2 separate regions of the Homo sapiens genome follow, and region 1 is linked to region 2. Evidence: fine-mapped expression QTL. Tissue or cell type: prefrontal cortex. Region 2 holds a variant in brackets; the other region holds the start of a gene. All regions are shown on one strand. Distances are from middle to middle.

What was found. PIP is the estimated chance that this variant, and not a neighbour inherited with it, causes the effect.
Region 1: SERAC1 starts here. The variant in region 2 is fine-mapped to the expression of SERAC1 in prefrontal cortex (BrainSeq, PIP 0.94).

Annotation. Positions count from the first base shown.
Region 1 is chr6:158,163,142-158,173,730 of GRCh38, forward strand. SERAC1 (serine active site containing 1) reads right to left here and starts at 5,121. Exons shown (of 17, transcript NM_032861.4): 1 at 4,999-5,121. It overlaps GTF2H5 (general transcription factor IIH subunit 5), which reads left to right and starts at 5,209. Exons shown (of 3, transcript NM_207118.3): 1 at 5,209-5,254; 2 at 7,329-7,397. The coding sequence starts at 7,363. RefSeq lists silencers at 4,919-4,988, 5,029-5,208.
Region 2 is chr6:158,102,381-158,112,969 of GRCh38, forward strand. It overlaps SERAC1 (serine active site containing 1), which reads right to left. Exons shown (of 17, transcript NM_032861.4): 17 at 7,139-9,122. The coding sequence ends at 8,986. Among named protein-coding and RNA genes, the nearest start is that of SERAC1, 61 kb to the right of the region's middle. The variant AT/A (reference allele first, on the strand shown) is at 5,981.

The sequences.
Region 1 (10,589 bases), 61 kb after region 2:
TGAAGCCACATCAAACTAGCCAGCCCCTAGGTGACCCTACAAATCCATATTCAGTCCTTAGCCTGCAAGCAATAATAAATGTTTGTTTTAGCCCGTAGCCTTTGGGATGGTTTATAATGCCTCAAAAAGCTGACATGTAACTTCTAAACTTTCCTTTACACGAGATATATGAGGTTGCTGCCAGCATAACTTGTTTTACAGTAAATTTTATTTTTTTATAAGTAGAGGGAATAGATGAATACACTATAAAATAACAATAAAAAGTATACCATAGGGCCAAGTGTGGTGGCTCATGCCTATAATCCCAGTGATTTGGGAGGCCAAGGTGGGATGATTGCTTGAGACCACAAATCAACTGACTATATCTGCGGCACATGCCTGTAATACCAGCTACTCAGAAGCCTGAGGCAGGAGGACTGCTGGAGCTCAGGAGCCCAACACCAGCCTAGGCAATACAGTGAGACCCACATCTCAAAACAAACAAACAAAAAACCCTAATGGAATACATATGTATGGACCTATTCCACTCCATCGATCTATTTATCTATCCTTATATAAACACTGCACTGTTTAGATTATGTAGGTTTTTTGTTGTTTTTTGTTTTCTTTTTGACAGAGTCTCACTCTGTCGCCCAGGCAGGATGGAGTGCAGTGGCCTGATCTCAGCTCACTGCAACCTCCGCCTCCCAGGTTCAAGCAATTCTCCTGCCTCAGCCTCCCAAGTAGCTGGGATTACAGATGCCCACCACCATACCTGGCTAATTTTTGTATTTTGGGTAGAGACAGGGTTTCACCATCTTGGCCAGGCTGGTCTTGAACTCTTGACCTCGTGATCCACCCGCCTCGGCTTCCCAAAGTGCTGGGATTACAGGTGTGAGCCACCGCACCAGGCAGATTACTGTAGTTTTTAAAGTAAGTCTTGAAGCTAGTAGTATAAATTTTCCAGCTGTGTCCTTCCTTTTCAAGACGGACTATTCTAGGTCCTTGGTACTTCCACATAATTTTAGAGTCTGCTTGTCAATTTCTATTTAAAAGCACCTTTAAGATTATGGGGCCAGGCACGGTGGCTCACGCCTGTAATCCCAGCACTTTGGGAGGCCGAGGCAGGAGGATCACGAGGTCAGGAGATCGAGACCAGCCTGGATAACCCGGTGAAACCCCATCTCTACTAAAAATTCAAAAAATTAGCTGGGTGTGGTGGCGGGCACCTGTAGTCCCAGCTACTCAGGAGGCTGAGGCAGGAGAATGGCGTGAAACTAGGAGGTGCAGCTTGCAGTGAGCAAAGATTGCGCCACGGCAGTCCAGCCTGGGCGACAGAGCGAGACTCCATCTCAAAAAAATATATATATATATTATGACGGTGATTACATAAAATCTGAAACACTGATTTTAAGTAGAGAACGGAGAAATTTTGAGACTAAGAAAGACACAGAAAATAAAAGGGAAGAGATTATAATTTAAAAATAAAACAAATATTTGAAAATTCCATTAAGTTTAACAATATGGAGGTCACTGGGATCTTCATATCAGTAGCTTCATTGCCCTGGTGGAGGAAGCCAGAGTGAAACATCATTTCATGCTTTCATTCTGATTAATAAAACGTGAGTTGTAGCTAGGTACACAGACAACAAAAAAGACTACATCACCTTTCTTTCTTTCTAGTTAACTATGGGCACTTACAAAGAATTGGCTAATGAAATATGAGTGGATGTGTCATGTGCAATTTCTGAAAAGTGTCCTTAAAAAGAAGGGTATGTGCCTTTCTTCCTCCTTCCCTCCTCCCTCTTGCTAGAATGAGCAACTGACAGTTTGAATTAAAGCAGTCATCTTAACACCAAGCATCTTATTAAGGACGGTAGAGCAGCCAGATAGAAGAATCCGAGTCCCTGATGATTACAGAGCTGCTTCCATAAAAGCATGGCTGCCTACCTATGCAATTACATACATATTTAAGCCAGTATTATCTTGTTTTCTGTGTAACACAGCTGATTCCAACACACCACAGTTTTTTGTTTTTTGGTTTTTTTTTTGAGACAGAGTCTCTCACTCTGTCACCCAGGCTGGAGTGCAGTGGCGCGATCTCGGCTCACTGCAAACTCCGTCTCCCAGGTTCACACCATTCTCCTGCCTCAGCCTCCCAAGTAGCTGGGACTACAGGCGGCTGCCACCACGCCCAGCTATTTTTTTGTATTTTTAGTACAGACGGGGTTTCACCGTGTTATCCAGGATGGTCTCAATCTCCTGACCTCGTGATCCACCCGCCTCGGCCTACCAAAGTGCTGGGATTACAAGCGTGAGCCACCGTGCCCGGCCCAGTTCTTAATATCTATATGCCAGTGATCTCAGAGTACCTCTAGCTACGATCTTTCCTGACCTATCTATCCAACAGCTATTGGAACATTTCCACTTGGATGTCCAACAGGCCTTTCATACTCAACTGTCCAAAAGAGAATTCTTTACTTTTTCTCCCCAAACTCTTCCTCCACAAATCTTCTCCATCACTATCCATCAAATGGTCAATGCTTTTTGATTGTAAATGGTAAATGATCTACCTCTTAACTGAAGCAAAAAAACAGATGTTGCCCTTGATTCCTTGTTTTCCCCTTACTCTACATCTAAACCACGCAGAGTTGCTCTTCTCTACCATCAAAACATACCCCCAAATCCATCCATTTTTCTCTGTATTCACTGCTACACTCTTGTCTAGTTCAAGCCAACATCATCTCTCATTTGGAGTAATAAAATGACACCTCAAAGGTGCTTTTTGTAACTTAAGAAATCCTTCTCAGAGACATTTAAAAAAAAAGTTCTGGAGATAGATAGTAGTGCTGGTTGCACAATGTGAATGTCACTGAACTCAACAACTCAACATGGTTAACATGATAAATCTTATGTGTAACAAGATTTAACAAAGCAAACAAAAAAGAAATCTTTCCTAGAGACAATGGTCTCTTATATTCCTTTCCAAATACCTTGCAGCTGTGCCATTCACATTTAGGTCTTTATCTGGAAACTGTTGTCAATAGTTTGAAAGTAAGAATCTAATCCTGTCTGTATACCATAACAATGCCAGATATCTCAGCAACCATATATTTCATCATCCTTTATTGAATAGTCTATGCTTTCCCCCTGCTTTGCAATACCACTTAGTGGTATACTAAACTCCCGTATGTAAATAGGTATGTTTCTAGTGTCTCTATTCTGTTCCATGAATCTAATTCTCTATCCCTGAATCAATATCATACCATCTTAATAATTACAACTTTATATTAAGCTTTGGTATCTGATAGGGAGAGACCTTATTTTTCTTCTTCTTCAAAATTGACTTCACTATTCTTGGTCCCTTGCCTTTCCATATAAATTTTAAGTTCAGCATGGCAAATTCCATAAAACAATATGGTGATTTTAATTGGCATTACACTGAATTCGTAGAACTGAGGAAAACTGACATCTTTTTGTTGAGTCTTTCCATCTATTAATACGGTATATCTCACCATTTACTTGGGTCATCTTTTGTGTTCCAACAGAGCCTTACAATTTTCTGTCTAAAGGACTACACAGCTTTAGGTTCATCTATTTCTAGGTACCTTTAGTTTTGAATGCCATTATGAATAGTGTCTTTTTATTATTAAAACTCCTAGTTAATTGTTACTGGTATACAGAAGTTTTTAAATGCAGAAATTAAGGCCATTTCTGACATCCCCCTGGCCAAAATAACCCCTCTAGTCACTCTTTATCACATCACCAAATGGTACTTATTCCTTAACTGATTTCAGAGTCTCTCTGCCCCCACCAAAATTAGTTACCTGTTCACCATTGTATCCCAAGCGTCTAGAATAATAGCTGACACACATCAAGTGCACAAAAATGGAACTGATGAGATCAAGGAAGAGAATGTATGCAAGATGAAAAAAAGCAAATAAAAGATACTTGGGAAGAAGAAGACTTGGAGGCAATTTTTTTATTTTAAAGAGAGTGCAACAATATGGAAATCACCAGTTGGAAAAGATTTGAGGGATAGAAAGAGGGAACTAAATGGAAGAGCTGGGTTCCTTAGCGATCACATGAACACACACGATGTTAAAAAAAAAAAAAAAAAAAAAAAGGCAGCATGAGGTCGGGCGCGGTGGCTCACACCTGTAATCGCAGCACTCTGGGAGGCCGAGGCGGGGGATCACCTGATGTCAGGAATTCCAGACCAGCCTGGCCAACATGGACAAACCCCGTGTCTACTAAAAATACGAAAATCAGCCGGGCGTGGTAGCGCACGCCTGTAATCCCAGTTACTAGGGAGAATGAGGCAGGATAATTGCTTGAACCCAGGAGACGGAGGTTGCAGTGAGCCCAGATCGCGCCACTGCACTCCAGCCTGGCAGACAGACCGAGACTCCATCTCAAAAAAAAAAAAAAAAAAGGCAGCATGAGCTTAATGCGGGAAGTACAATTTAACCTAAGGAACAGAAAACAAGAATCTCATATCTCAACTAGTAAAAATAATGACAGTGTTCCTTTAGACTTACAGAACAGACTTGGGGAAAGGGAGTAACTTTAGAACCTTCTGGGGTCTTTCACTTTAAAATGACCGTTGCCGAGTTTAGAGCTCTCTCAGCATTCAATCTATTCCATCTCTGGGGTTAGAGAGGGAGCAGGAAGCGGTGGTCTGCAAGGCTCAGAAGTGACTGGTGAGGCCCTTTCCTCCTCCTCCTCATCTCTCCGTGACTACCGAGCCCGGGAAGACGGACCGGCAGGTGCACTCCCCAAGGCCTCGACAGCAGCCAGAGAAAGGCAGCGACAGGGAAAGACGAGTCAGGCTCGCGACCACCAGAGAGAGAGGCCCTCACGCCCAGCCGAGCGTCAGCTGGTCGGTCCGGTCCGCGCGCCAGACGGCGGTGCTCGGCCGTGCCCGGTCCCTGCCCTCCCCATTCTCCGCTCCCCACCGCGCCCAGCTGCGCCGACGCCCCCGTCCGCCCCCACACCACCCCTGCCTTCACGTCCTACCTGCCGGCAGGCGGACTCAGCCCGTGCCCAACTGCTCGTCGGACCCCGTTGTCTGGGGAGCCCTACTCTTTCCGCGGCTCCCGGCCGGGACCCTCCACCCGGCGGCTGGCGGCTCGTGACCCCGCCCCCTCGGCCCGCTCTGGGCCCGCCTCCCGCCGGCTGGCTCCACCCACAATAGCGTCCCTAGCGCGATGGCGTATCGGCGCAGGCGCACTCTGCCGGCAACGCCGAGGCGCTTCTGCATCTGTGGGCCGAGGTGTGTGGCGAGCGTCCGAGCGGCTGGGGAAAGTGGGGTGTGGGAACACTGAGGGGTCCCAAAGAAAGGGGAGAGGAAGAGAAAAGCCCCAGAAGCCTGTCCACCGGGTGCTGGGGGCACAGGGCGGTGTCCCCCACTCTCTCCGGGCCCTTCCTGGCGGGGCCGCACGGCAGTCCCCCCCTCGTTTAATCGTGGGTTTCCTGTGGGGCTAGGGCTCGCCCTGCGCCCAGGTGTAAGTGGAAGTTAATTAAATGGGCGTACGCTGAGTGGTTTGTTTCCAGCCTAGGTCCGCACGGGACGTGATTTATTTAGTGAAGGGGCACAAGATCTGGAGATCTGGCTTGTACTTTTTTCCTTTGGCCAGGAACTACGGCTTAATCTCTTCCTTTGGTCTCCTCATATGTAAAATGAGGTGGCTGAGGCCGGGCGCGGTGGCTCACGCCTGCAATCCCAGCACATTGGGAGGCCGAGGCGGGCAAATCACTTGAGGCCAGGAGTTCGAGACCAGCCTGGCCAACATGGTGAAACCCCGTCTCCACTAAAAATACAATAAATTGGCCTGGCGCGGTGGCTCACACCTGTTGTCCCAGCACTTTGGGAGGCCGAGGTAGGTGGATCATTTGAGATCAGGAGTTCGAGACCAGCCTGGCCAACATGGTGAAACCCTGCCTCTACTAAAAATACAAAATTTGGCCTGGCGTGGTGGCGGGCGCCTGTAGTCCCCGCTGCTTGGGAGGCTGAGGCAGGAGAATCGCTTGAGCCCGGGAGGCAGAGGTTGCAGTGAGCCGACATCACGACACTGCGCTCCAGCCTGGGCGACAGAGTGAGACTCTGTCTCGAAGTGTATATATACATATATATATATTATATATGTATTTTATATATAATATATATTTATTTTATATATAATATATAATATGTATATTATGTATATTATATATAATACGTATATTATATATAATACATATATATAATATGTATATTATATATTATATATAATATTATATTGTATATTATATATTATATATAATATATTGTATATTATATATATTATATATTATATATATTATATTGTATATTATATATAATATATTGTATATTATATAATATATTGTATATTATATATAATATACAGTATATTATATATAATATACTGTATATTATATATAATATATTGTATATTATATATAATATATTGTATATTACATATATTGTATATTACATATAATATATTGTATATTACATATATTGTATATTACATATAATATATTGTATATTATATAATATATAATATATATTATATAATATATTGTATATTATATATTATATAATATATTGTATATTATATATTATATAATATATTGTATATTATATATAATATATTGTATATTATATATTATATATTGTATATTATATATTATATATAAAAGTGTGTATATATATACACACACACACACACGATACAACACAGTACATTAGCTGGGCTTAGTAGTGCATGCCTGTAGTCCCAGCTACTCGGGAGGCTGAGGTGGGAGGATCGCTTGAACCCAGGAGGCAAGAGGTTGCAGGGAGCAGAGATCGCGCCACTGCACTACAGCCTGGGCGGCAGAGCCAGACCCTGTCTCAGTAAAATAAAATATAAACTAAAAGGAGGTGGTTGGGCTCACTGTATAATTTTTGAAGCACCTTTCAGAACTATCTTCTTTGATTCCTGTCTCCCAGGATCTTACCCTTTGTCATTCTCCTGAATGGGAAAAGAAATCCTTTGAATAATGGACGGTTTATACCTGGGTTGGGCACACTGGTGTAGAGTTAGGCCTCTTGCTTCTATTAGGGCTAATTGACCTTGGGTAGAATTGGCTGGCGAGTAAGATGTGGCATTAATATTCCAAGTAGACTCATTTTAATTTTGTTAAAAAATCAGAATGTCTTTTTTCTTAATGTTAACTGTCTTTCATAGACTTAACTGTTAAATATTGACATTTAATTATTTTGCCTCGTTTCAGAGGCAGATCCCCAAAGTATATGAAAGTTAATGATTTTTAATTTAATGTTACCTTACTCTTTTTATTAGCATTCTTCAGGTCATCTGAACCTTCTGAGAAAACATGGTCAACGTCTTGAAAGGAGTGCTTATAGAATGGTTAGTAGTTTTGATACTGCATGAGTTTTAAGTTTAAATATTGAATCTTGACTTGTATGTATGTCTTTTCTAAAACCCTGTTGTTTTTAAGATATGGATGAAATCAAGTCTTTCGCTTTTAACAAGTGGCACAGATTTTGTTGCAAAGCTCCTGGTGCCAGATTTCAGTCCCTCTGTTGAATTGATGGAACTGGCATGATCAGAGGCAGCATATTTGTTAGATGAGTCGTCTTTAGAGAAACAGTGCTTGCATTCTCCTCAAACATGATGAATTTTAGGGCCTGAAAGAGTTCAGGAACTTGCTTAAGTCTTTACCATTACAAACTGTGGACTTTAAAAAAGAGAAAAACAACAGAGCCAAATGGAGGTTTCTTAAATTCCTTTAGGTACATTCCAGAGGAGAAACTAAAAACCATAAATGGGCAGAGTTGAGTTCCTCAAAGCAATCCAGTGTCCAGGAACCCCGGGAACCCTGCTCTGTGGACACTCCCATTGTCTGAAAATACTACTGTCTACTTTCGGTGCCTCTAATATGAGCCAGTGCATGGATAATGATACTGTTTACTGTGATGGCAAGGCTAAGGAGGAGCAAGACCAAACCCTAGGACACTGCCAACATTTAGAACAGCACTAGCCAATAGAAATCTAATGCAAGCCACAGATATAGTCTTACATTTTTTCTAGCCATCTTAAAAGTAACGTAAAATGAAACAGGTGAAGTTAATATCTTTTGTTTAACCCTGTCTATGCAAAACACTATGCTTTGAACACATACTAAGTCTTCAAAAAAATCTTCATCTTCAAAGTCGAATGGATATTTTAATTTTACAGCACATCTCACAGACTAACCGTGTTTCAAGGACTCTGTAGTGACCTGACTAGTGGGCTACCTTATGCATAGTGCAGATTTGGAGTTTTGATACAGGAGACACCAACAAAGGCAACTAAGAAGAAAATAGCCAGTGAGGCTGGAGGGAGGAAAGCCAAAGGAGGAAGTGTTTTGTAGGGATGAGCGGCTGTGTTGGGCACTGATTGAGAACTGGCATGAGATGAAGACTGGAGTTTTGATGAGAGCCATTTGAATGGAGTGGTGGGGAGATGCCAGATTGAAGTACTGTGGAAAAGGAAAGGGAGGTGAGGAGGTGGAGATGGAGACTTCGGAGAAGTTTTACTGTGATCATGAGCAATCTCATAGAGAACTGGATTGGTAGCTGACGAAGGACATGGTGAGGGGCTCAGGTTCTTGCTATTTTTATTTTAATGTGAAAGACTAGAATGTACGTTGATGAGAGTAAACCACTGCGGGGGAGAGGTATTCACTTGGAAAAGCAAAGGGGGTGGGATCTGGACCCCAGAAGTTCTAAACACACTGTTCTGTTGTCTTTTGAAGGCACTAGGTTTGATGTACTTATTTTCCTATTAATTTGACATAACATAAACATTTTCCTCGTTGGCCTTTAGTGTTATTTTTAAATACAGAGGATACACATACACAGAGTGTCAGCTATCACTTTTTTTCCCTCGTTTCTTCCAATTCTAAGTTTAATCTTCACCCCTGGGTTTGTTAAATATTCACTTCTCTCTTCTGAGGGTTTTGTGTTTTTCTTGGTGTTTTAGATTCATTCATCTAGAATTTATTGGGAGGAGTGGCATAGGTTTGTTAAATATTCACTTCTCTCTTGTGGGGATTTTGTGTTTTTCTTGGTGTGTTAGATTCATTCATCTAGAATTTATTCAGAGAAGAGACATATTATTAGATAAGGATCTAAATTAGCTTCTTTTTTTTTTTTTTGACACGGAGTCTTGCTCTGTTGCCAGGTTGGAGTGCAGTGGCGCGATCTTGGCTCCTGGATTCAAGCGATACTGCTGCCTCAGCTGCCCGAGTAGCTGGGATTACAGGCACACACCACCACACCCGGCTAATTTTATTTTTGTATTTTTAGTAGAAATGGGGTTTCACCATGTTGGCCAGGCTGGTCTCGATCTCTTGACCTCATGATCCACCTGCCCCGGCCTCCCAAAGTGCTGGGATTACAGGCATGAGCCACTGCACCCAGCCTAGCTTCTTTTTTGTTTTGGGTGTTTTTGTCTGTTCATTTTGCCAAATATCTAGTTCTCCACCATTATTTCCTTTCTTAATGATGCTTGATGCCTCCTTAATCACATAATTTTACTCCCCTTGCTATTCTCTTTCATCCCTTCCCACATTCATCTTTCTTGTTGCCTATTCTAGAATAACCTTGAAATAACTTAGTCTGTTTCCAAAATAATCCTTTTGGCATATTGGTTGGAATTGCATTAAACCTACGTTTTAATTTGAAAAAAAAGATGACTGGATTGCATCTTAAAGAACAAAACTCTGGGGAGACTCTGAAGTCTCAGTGCCCGGTTTGCTGTCCCGTATCTAACCTCTGAATTCTACCTGGTCTCTCTAATGACTGTCCATCACCTTGCACTTCAGGGTAATCCCCAGACTAGCAGTAATAGCATCATCTGGAGCTTGTTAGAAATGCAAAATCTCAGACCTCACCCTAAATCTACTAAATCAGAATTGTGCATACAAAGAATCTTGTTAAGATGCATTTAAATTTTGAGAAGCAATAATACTGTTAATCAGCTTCAGTTTAATAATGTTTCCCTGTGGAGAAGTGTTTTGCACCAGGACTATTAAATTTTATTTTGCAGGTTAGGTACCATCCTTGCAAAACTAATTTTTCCCTTTGAAGTGAATTCTAAAGTGTAGTCTGCACAATTTTTCAAAAGGGTAACTCTGTCTTCCCAAAAACACAAGTCTTCCAAAAAGATTTTGGGCCTAAGAAATAACATAGATTCCCAAAGGAAAGGGTATGGCCAGTGCTAGTGGATTCCCTTTCACAGTTAGATGCAGATGTTAGGATGGTAACTGGAAAAGTCCTTCAGTTTCCCTCATGTCCATATTTGATGCCAAGGAGAAGCCTGTTAATAATATGATTATCAGTATAAGTCTGTTTATTACTTCATAATATCCATGGATTGTATGAAGCATTTAGGTGTATTGGAGTATGGAATTTGATAGGTCTGGAGTTTACAGGCAGACCACTCAAGGATCTTCTACAGCTGTTGCAGGTGAATACCAAAATTGAGGCTCAGCCCTGGAAGCCAAGTTGGTTTTTGGCTTCATGCAGGAAAGAATTCAAGAATGAGCCACAGAGT
Region 2 (10,589 bases):
ACCATGCCTGGCTAGTTTTTTGTATTTTTTGTAGAGACAGGGTTTCACCATGTTGCCCAGGCTGGTCTCGAACTCCTGGCCTCGAGCAATCCTCCCCCCTTGGCCTCCCAAAGTGCTGGGACTACAGTGCAGTGGTTCAGACCTGTAATCTTAGTACTTTGGGAGGCCGAGGCAGGCAGATCACTTGAGGTCAGGAGTTCAAGATCAGCCTGGCCAAATATGGGAAAAACCATTCTCTACTACAAATACAAAAATTAGCCAGGCATGGTGGTGCATGCCTGTAATCCCAGCTACTTGGGAGGCTGAGGTACAAGAATCGCTTGAACCCAGGAGGTGGAGGCTGCAGTGAGCCAAGATTGTGCCACTGCACTCCATCCTGGGTGACAGAGTGAGACTGTCTAAAAATATATTTTTTCTTTGTATTTTTAAACATCTTTCATTAATTTTTAACTTTAACTTGGATCTGTTTTGTACTTTTACTTTTGTTCTTTTCCTAATCTTAATAGTAGAACTGGGTTTTCATTTTTGGTCTTTCATAGTTAATAATAAAGATATTTAATTAAAGTTATACATTTTCCCTTGATTTTAGCTTTAACTGCACCCTATACATTTTGGAATGAAATTTCCTCCTTGTCATTAATTGCTAGATTGTAATTTGTCGTTGCGTTCTCTTTGATCCATTGGTTATTTAGGAGACTGTATAATTTCCAAATAGTTAAGGGTTTTTTGTTTTTATTTTTGATTTTGGGTTTTTTGTTTTTTTTTTTTTTGGCATTTTAAATTACTTAGCCCTAATTTTATTGGCCTGTGACCTGAGACTATGACCTAGAAAACCATCTACTTTTAAAAATGTGTTAACGTTCGATGTGGCCATGTGGAGGATTGATTTGCAAAGTGGTTTCATCAATATAATTTTTTTTTTTTAGTCATAGGGTACAAAATTGTGTGTGTGTGTGTGAGAGAGAGAGAGAGAGAAATTGATTTGCTGTCAATTACACTCTACCTGCTGGAACAGGTCTTTGTGCAAGGCAGATCTGTGGGGGATGGTGAAGGCTCTAGTTCTAGTTCCAAAGTGATGCCTTCGCCTTGCTCCTACCAAGATTCCTTAGATCTTGCTGAATAAATGTTTCACGATTTGTTGTCAGCCTTTTGGTCAATCTCTAGAGACATTGAATGATGGCTTTTGCTAATTTTGACCAGTTTAATAGATGTCTTTCTGTGGGAGAGGTTTCCCTGAGCAGCTCATACAGCTGTTCCAGAATGTAGACCTTCTGGGCTCTCCGTGTTCTGTAGCATTGGCCTGCTTGTCTATCCGTGTGCCAATACAACGTTGCCTTATTTCATTTAACTTTGTTATCTGATAAGCACTCTCACCATATTCTTTTTCTTTAAGAGTATCTTGGCTATTTTTGAGTCTTTGTATTTTTAGATCAATTTTAAAATCAATTGAAGTTTCATTTTTTAAAAACCTGTTGCAATTTTTGGGATTGCATGGAATAGAATAGACAGCTTTACGGTATTGAGTCTTCAGTCCAAGAACCCATCACATCTCTTCATTTAAGGTTTTCCTTGATGTTTCTTAGTTTTTAACTTGTAAAAAGTTTCAGACATACATTAAATCAGAGGGAATAGCCTGGACCCTCGCATATCTGTCACCTGGGATTTAACAGTAATAACCCTTTGCTATATTTGCTTTATATATTTTTCCTTTGCTGAAATATTTCAAAGCAATTCTGCTATCATACTTGATTCCTCGGTACTTTCAACGTGTATCTCCAACATTTTCTTTCATAACCTTAATGTCATTATTATATCTAACAGACAATACTTATTTTAAAATTCATTTGCTATTTTTTACTAGTATACTTACAGACTTTTTATATTGAATGCATCAGCAACCTTGCCAAACTCTCAAAATTCTAACAATTTACTGTATTTTGATACACCTAGTATACCATCAATTATCAGACACACCATTTATGTACCATCATTCTTAAGACGGCTTCCAACTAAGACTCAGTAGCTATTGTGAGATGCAGCCCAATTACAGAGATGTTCAAATATTGTGAAATGTGTCTTGGAATTGATAAAACATGGTATCTGTGGTTTTTTTGGATTTTCTATGTAAATAATCATATTAGCAAACAATGAATTTTGTTTATTCCTTTCTCATCCTTGTATCTTTGTGTCTTTTTCTTGCCTTACAGAGTTGGCTAGGACATTTAGGACGATGTTTAAAATGCTGCTGGTAGGCATTCTTGTGTTATTCCTGTTCTCAGAGGGAAGATGTTAATATTTTTACCACTAAGTATGATGTTTACTGTTGTTGTTTTTTTCTTTTAATATCCTTTATTGACAAAATTCTCTTCCTGGCTTGCTAAGTTTATCTTTTGCATGAATAGTGGTTGAATTTTATCAGATATTTTGTGTGTATTGCAATGATTATGATTTTTCCTTTTGTTTAATTTGGGGAATTACATTGATCAATTTTTCAGTGCTAAGCAAACCTTGCATTCATTCATTGCGTAACTCCAACTTGGGGAGATTATTTTACCCCCTTAAATATTGCTGGCTTTAATTTGTCAATATTTTTGCTTGGGATTTTTGCAGCTACATCCATGAGAACGGCTTGTAACTGTCCCTTTTTTATACTGTCCTTGAATGGTTTTGGTATCAGAGTTTTGTTAACCTCATAAAATGAGCTGGGGACTACACTCTTTTTCTATTAACTGGGAAAACTTGATAACATTGGAACTATTTCCTCCTTAAACTTTCGGTAGCACTCACCAGTCAAGTTCTGTCTAGGTTTGTTCTAAGCTAATTTTAATACATGAAATATAGGTCATAAATGTTCTCTGATGATTTTCAGCAGTAAGAATATACTGATAATCTCGAAGTCATAAATATGGCTAGTCCTTCCTGACCAGTAAGGAACAGTACATTGAATTCACTTGGGCCTATAGTTTGTGAGATTTTAAAACCACTTATTCTATTCCTTTTATAGGAATAGGACTATAAAAGTTTTCTATTTCATAGGCAACTTGGGTAAGCTGTATTTTCCTTGGAGTTTTCTATTAAAAATTGAGTAGTATTGGCCTGAAAGTATCTATTAATATCCTCTTATCTTGTAATGTGTGCATTGTAGTGATATTTCCTCTTCCTTCCTAACATTGGCAACTTGTGCCTCTTTTTTCACTTGATTGTGTCAGGTGGGTCTCTTATAAACACATATAGTAGGGTGTTATTTCTTATCCAGTCTGACACACTATCTTTTAACTGGGGCATTTAGCTCATTTACATTTAATGCAATTATTACTATATTTGGGTTTTCACTTGCCATGCCATTTTGTGCTTTCTCTTAGTACCATCTGTTCCTTATTTCTTTTCCCCTCTGTTTGTGCCTTAAGATTTTTTTTTTTTATTCCCCTTTTTCTTCTCTCCTAGTTTGGAATTCATTATATACACTATTTTTTGTCTATTATTGGTTATCTTAGAAACAAAATACGTATCATTAAATTCTCAAAGTCTAGTGATAATCATTGTTTTACCTTCCTCCTAAATAACACAACAACCTTGGAGCACTTAACTCCATTTACCCACCCCCAACTTATATGCTATAGTTGCTGTGTATTTTAATTTTACATATTTTAACACCCACTTGATATATTATGTTTTATAAAATTTTTATTTAATTTATCCTAGTAGTTACCTCTTTTTTCACTCCACATTCTTTCTTGAATTCCAGTGCCTCTGGCTGGATCACTTGCCTTCTGCCTTCCATTAATGAAGGTCTGCTGGCAGTAAACTCTTTTTCTTTATATAAAATGTCCATTTCATCTTAATATTTTAAGTGTTTATGATTTGTACTGGATGTATAATTCTAGATTGCAAGTGGTTTTCTTTTAGCACATTGACAATATCATTCCAGTGTCTTCTGGCTTCCATTGACTTAGGACTTCTCAACAGCAGCAATTTTAACTGTTGTTCTTTACACATTTTTCTCTAACTACTTTTAAGATCTTCCTCTTGTCTTGGCTTTTCTGCAGTGTCCCTATTCTCTGTATAGATGCAGATTTATTTTTATATGCTCTGCTTTGGATTAACTTCTTCAGTCTGTGGAATGAGCCACCACGCCCGGCCTCCTGGATGCTATTTCTATAGATAAAATAGTGGGCCAGGTATGGTGGCTCACGCCTATAATCCCAGCACTTTGGGAGGCCGATGTGGTGGGATCACCTGAGGTCAGGAGTTCGAGACCAGCCTGACCAATATGGTGAAAACCTGCCTCTACTAAAAATACAAAAATCAGCTGGGCATGGTAACACATGCCTGTCATCCCAGCTACTTGGGAGGCTGAGGCAGGAGAATTGCTTGAACCCGGAAGACGGAGGTTGCAGTGAGCCGAGATTGCACACTCCAGCCTGGGCGACAGAGCAAGACTCTGTCTCATAATAATAATAATAATTTATTTTTGCCAATAAATCATTATTATTTTCTTTGTAGCTCTTTGATCAATTAAAAACATTTCGTCTAGATTCTTTAATTGTCCTCACTGGGAGATTAGATCCAAATGATCTATCCTGCTATTACTGAAAGCAGAAGCCTGTTATTATTTTTTAAGATTCCTTTTTCACTAATATTCCATCTTATGTTGCAATAACTTGACCAGTGAGCACAGTGGCTATGATTTGGATTTTGACTTTTACAGAGCTTTCTTTTTAAAATAAATTGTGTATCAAAGTAACAAATACTCAGCTGGGTGCAGTGGCTCACGCCTGTAATCCCAGCACTTTTGGAAACGGAGGTGGGTGGATCACTTGAGGTCAGGAATTTGAGACCAGCCTGGCCAACACAGTGAAACTCCCATCTCTACTAAAAATACAAAAATTAGCCGGGTGTGGGTGGTAGGTGCCTTTAATCCCAGCTACTTGGGAGGCTGAAGCAGGAGAATCGCTTGTACCCAGGAGGCGGAGGTTGCAGCAAGCCGAGATCGCGCCATTGCACTCCAGCTTGGGCAAGAGTGAGACTCTGTCTCAAAAAAAAAAAAAAAAAAAGAAAAGAAAAGAAAAAAGTAACAAATACTCATAAAATTAAGCATTAAAATATGAAAAGTTAACCCAAAATCTACCCAGAAGTAATCATAAACATTACTTTAGAAATCTTTCTATGTGTATTATAGTGTCTGGCATTTTACTATACATATACACATAGATTTCTAGAATATATAAAACATGTTTATTAAATATAGGTTATTAAATATATATTCTAGAATACATATATTTTTAATGTTTAATATTTAGATAGTATGCTATATGTCATATGGTTTGTAAATTATGTTTAATATTAATGACATATAGTATGATGGCATACTATATGTCATTATCTAATAAACTTACCTTAGGCTAAGAAGGTAAAACTAGAACTGCACAGTATTCCCCAATTCTTGCAGGCTTGAGCATGCTGGTCCATTACCTTTGTACCCATTTCAAGGGCAACTTAGCTGAGCACACAATTCTTTCTCTCCAACATTATTGTTTTCTAACATAAGTGTTTTTGTTTTTAGGGTTTTTGTTTGCATTTTAAAGTGTGCTATTTTTATTCCCTTTTTTTTAAATGTCTGGATTGAATTAACAAGCAAATTTGTCAGGAAAGGCACATAGGTCCCTATTCCTTGAGGTGATGTTGACAATGCCTGTCTGTCTATTGCCTTTACAATTGAACAGCTTATCTATTATCTTCTAATTATTTTATTTTGCTTCTGCATCTATTGTGGTTCCATATCCATCCAGCCACCTCTCTATTGATAGAATTTTCATCCATTTCTTTTTTTTTTTTTGAGACGAAGTCTTGCTCTGTCGCCCAGGCTGGAGTGCAGTGGCGAGATCTCAGCTCACTGCAACCTCCGCCTCCTGGAGTCAAGCAATTCCCCTGCCTCAGCCTCCTGAGTAGCTGGGATTACAGGTGCGTGCCACCACACCTA[AT/A]TTTTTTTTTTTTTTTTTTTTTTGTATTTTAGTAGAGACGGAGTTTCAACACGTTGGTCAGGATGGTCTCGATCTCCTGACCTTGTGATCCACCCACCTTCGCCTCCCAAAGTGCTGGGATTACAGGCGTGAGCCACCACACCCAGCCCCATTTCTATTCTTTAATGTGCTGTTTCTACTTCTGTAATTGTGCTGATTTGATTTTCAAGTGCTTTCCACCTTTTCCTTCATCACTTTTTTGTTGTTCAGGGATTATATTTTCTTTTAGAATTGCACCTTCAGCCATCATTTTATACAGATGCTCCTTGATTTACGATGGGGCTGCAACCGCATAAACCCATTGTAAGTCAAAAATGCATTTAACAATCTGATAAACCCATTGTGAACTCAAAAAATTGTGAGTTGAACCATCGTTAAGCTGGGGACCATCTGTACTTGTTTATTTTGCTTTACTGTGTTGCTTATGTGCTATACCATTTCTTTTAATCTTGCTTGTGTATAATAAATTTTATCCAGACTATTCTAATTTAGTTAAGAATACATTGGATATCTCTTCCACATCTTATTTTTAAAGCACGGCTGTATTCTATTAAAAATTTAAGAAACAGGGTTTCCATTCCATACTCTGAATTAATGAACAGTTGTTTCAACTGTGGTTTATCTGCCATGGTTCACAGAAAGCAGAACAAGAAAATTTACTAAACAGGGCCAGGTGTGGTGGCTCACGCCTGTAATCCCAGCACTATGGGAGGCCGAGGCGGGCAGATCACAAGGTCCAGAGATCGAGACCGTCCTGGCCAACATGGTGAAACCCCGTTTCTACTAAAAATACAAAAATTAGCTGGGCATGGTGGCGCGTGGCTGTATTCCCAGCTACTCAGGAGGCTGAGGCAGGAGAATCGCTTGAACCTGGGGAGGTGGAGGTTGCAGTGAGCCGAGATCGTGCCACTGCACTCCAGCCTGGTGACAGAGCGAGACTCTATCTCAAAAACAAAAAAAAAAAAAAAGAGAAAAAATGTACTAAACATATCTACCCCTTCTCCCCATGTTATCACATTGGGTAGTACATTCGTTGTTAGCAACTGTCATATTTGCTATGTCTACTACAGCAATAAATAAGTGGGTTTTGCTAGGTTGTTGTACAATGAAACAATTAATTGTTGATATCGAGTTTATTGATGAGCCATTTACCTTCAGATGCCATACTCCAGTTTTAGCTTCGACTATCTCATTCTACAAAAGTTCACCATCTTCAAAATTTAAACATAGACTTACCATTTGACCAGCAATTCCACCCAAGAGAATCAAAAACATCTATCCACACATAAATTTGTACACAAATGATCATGGTAGCATTATTTATCATAGACAAAAATGAACAGAACCTAGATGTCCATCAGCTGATGAATGGATAAAGAAACATGGCATATCATACAATGGAGTAATTTCGGCCATAAAAAGAAATGAAGTAGTACTGATACATGCTATATCATGAATGAACCTTGAAAACATGCTAATAGAAGGAAGAAGGCAGAGAGGGCCACATATTGTATGATTCCATTTACATAAAATTCCCAAATCCATAGAGACAGAAAACAGATTAGTGTTTACCGCAGGCTTGGGAAAGCAGAGGTGGGAACTGACTGCTCATGGGTATGGGGTTCTTTTGGGGATGATGAAATAGCCTGAAATTAAATAGCAATGATGTTGCACAACTCAGTGAACTATACTAAAAACCAATGAATTGAGCCTGGGAACAATGGCTCTGGCCTATAATCACAGCATTTTGGGAGGGTGGCTTGAGATCGGGAGTTTGAGACCTGGGCAACACAGTGAGACCCTGTCTCTACAAAAAAGTATTTATTTATTTTTTAATTACCCAAGTGTGGTGGCATGTGCCTGTAGTCCTAGCTGCTTGGGAGGCTGAAGCAAAAGGATCTCTTGAGCCCAGGAGTTTGAGGTTACAATGAGCTATGATCATGCCACTGCACTCCAGCTTGGGCAACAGAGTCAGACCCTGTCTCTAAACAAACAAAACAAAACAAAAATGAATTGTATAATTTAAAAGGGTGAATCTTATGGTATGTAAATTATATCTCAATAATGCTGTTACTCTAAAGAAAAAAAGGTCATCGACATGATTATCTACTACTCACATGCTATAGAGGTCAATTAATACCACTTGCAAATGAGCAAGGAAGAAGAAAGGTTTATTTAGCCAAAGAGAATCTGAGAATCTTGATACTAAGAATTGCTAATTCATATAATGGCTTAGAATAGTTTTACTTCATACTGTGATCAATAATGGATTAGCTACTTTATCCTTATCTAGGACAAATTCCAAGCATAGGCAGCTACAGTCTGAAAAGAATTATTATAAGCTAGAATTTTTCTAAGAAAAAGATTTGTTCTCAGGAATACGAAAATAGATACAAGGAACTGACCCAGACATGACAATAAGTCTAACAAAGTTAACACTAGTAATAATGTGTCAGATAAAAGGTAGAACTGAGCTAAAAACTCAAACTTTAAAAATGTACAGCAAATCAATACCCAGAAGTAAAAGAGTCTTGAATGTTCTAGTTCATTCTTCTCTCCATTTTAGGTACTCTCTTAATGGCATTTTTATGGTAAGTTGAGTTACCTCAGAACCTGCCGTGCCCCTCCTGGATGCACCAGGAAAGTCACAGATGGGAAAGGACACTCTCTCACAGCAGCTTTGCTCCAGTCACCAAGCCCAACACTGCGAACCATAAAGCAGCACACAGGGACTTCTTTACACCAAAGGGGCCCAATCCAGCCCTTCCTTCTGTGCCTGCCACTTCCGGGTTGGTGCTTTACAGCGCTTGAAGGGAGAACAATGTTCTGTAGTCTGCAACACACTCCAGACCATGTTGACGCTATGATCACTATGTTTGCATGATTGCATAGAGCTTAAAAGAAGAAACAGAACACCAAGTTTCTTGCACTGAATTCACATATGAAAACTGGAAGAGCACAACTGTTAGTTTTCAAGGTCTTTGGCTAAAGCTTCACGAATGAATTGTAAAGTACGCTGGTACAAAAAAGCATCCTTTTTCTTTGGCTTACAAATGTTCAAATGGTTAACATCCACAGGAATTAGATCTCCAATGCCTAAATCTGAAGAAAATAAAAAAGTCAATAAACCTAAGTAAAAATATAAGCTTTCCCCTTGACAATACTGAAAGAGGCCGAATGGGTAGTTCTAGACATTGCTTTGGTTGTGACAAGGGACTCTTAAAAGATAAAGGAACCTGAAGTTTGATTGCAGCTAAACTACATTTGATGAAACATGCAGGAAGGGATTCTCAGTCAGTAGAACCATAGTTTTATGCTTTCCATGAACTTTTCGTATGTGTTCTGGCCTACTTCCTTATTTCAGAGCAAGCAGAGATTGAGCACTAACATATTCAAAACCTTCTTACACCTGCAGGTTATTGCTAAGTTACTTCAGAGTTTCTATTATAAACTTCCTTTCTCCTGGTGAAATGAATGGGAATGTCTCACATGGGATCCATTCTATACCTAAATCCCAATAATCACTTTCAGGGTAAAAATGATTTAGTGCTTGAGATATTTCGGTCTAACAAAGTCCCCTCGCACGGAAGTGATAAGAGGTACTAGTGAGGCCACCTAGGTGAGGAATGCAGGTGGTGGTTATGAAGGAAGAAAAGCCTCTTGGTGACAGAATTAGGGCAAGGCTATGCCACTCCAAGCAGCTGGTCCATGATATTAACTTTGCTTTTGGGCGAGGCACAGTGGCTCACACCAGTAATCCCAGCACTTTGGGAGGCCAACGCAGGAGGACTGCTTGAGGCCAGGAATTTGAGACCAGCCTGGGCAACACAGCAAGACCCCATTTATACAAAAAATTTAAAAATTTAGACAGGTGTGGTGGTGTGCGCCTGTGGTCCCAGCTACTCAGGAGGCTGAAGTGGGAGGAACGCTTGAGCCCAGGAGTTCGAGGCTGCAATGAGCTATGATTATACCACTGAACTCCAGCCTGGATGACAAAGTGAGACCCTGTCTCTTAAAAACAAAAACAAAAAACTATGCTGTTGCTTCAAGCTTCCAAAGTCCTTTTTAAAAACATCTGGCAGCTGTTCTTTGGAACTCTTCAAGTTCTTCAACTACTAAATAGTAACTCCTCAACCTACAGCATATTACTTTAAGGTAAAATTTTTCAGTTCTACTACACAGTATGACATTTTTCATTTTATGTAGATAGCATATAATGAAATTAGGACAAAACTCATTATGTAGACAAAAGAACCATCTGGCAAGCACTCCAGATGCATGCTGTCCCTAGCCTGAAGGACCCACAATGTGGCTGGCTACCACCAGAACAGCACCTAAGCCAGCCTCAGAGGCAGTAAGAAAGGGGTTCCCAGAGATAACAGGCAAGCTGAAGACATGGCCAGGTGAGGCAAAAGCAGTTCAGGTGGTGAAATGTACAGGGTATCTAGTATGTACAGAGTAACAGAGGAGTCTATGAAGAGAGTTAATTAAGATCTGGGCTCCTCCCTCAAAGAATCTATAATACATTATATGACACTAGAGAGCAAGCACTGGCCATTTCCCTCAACC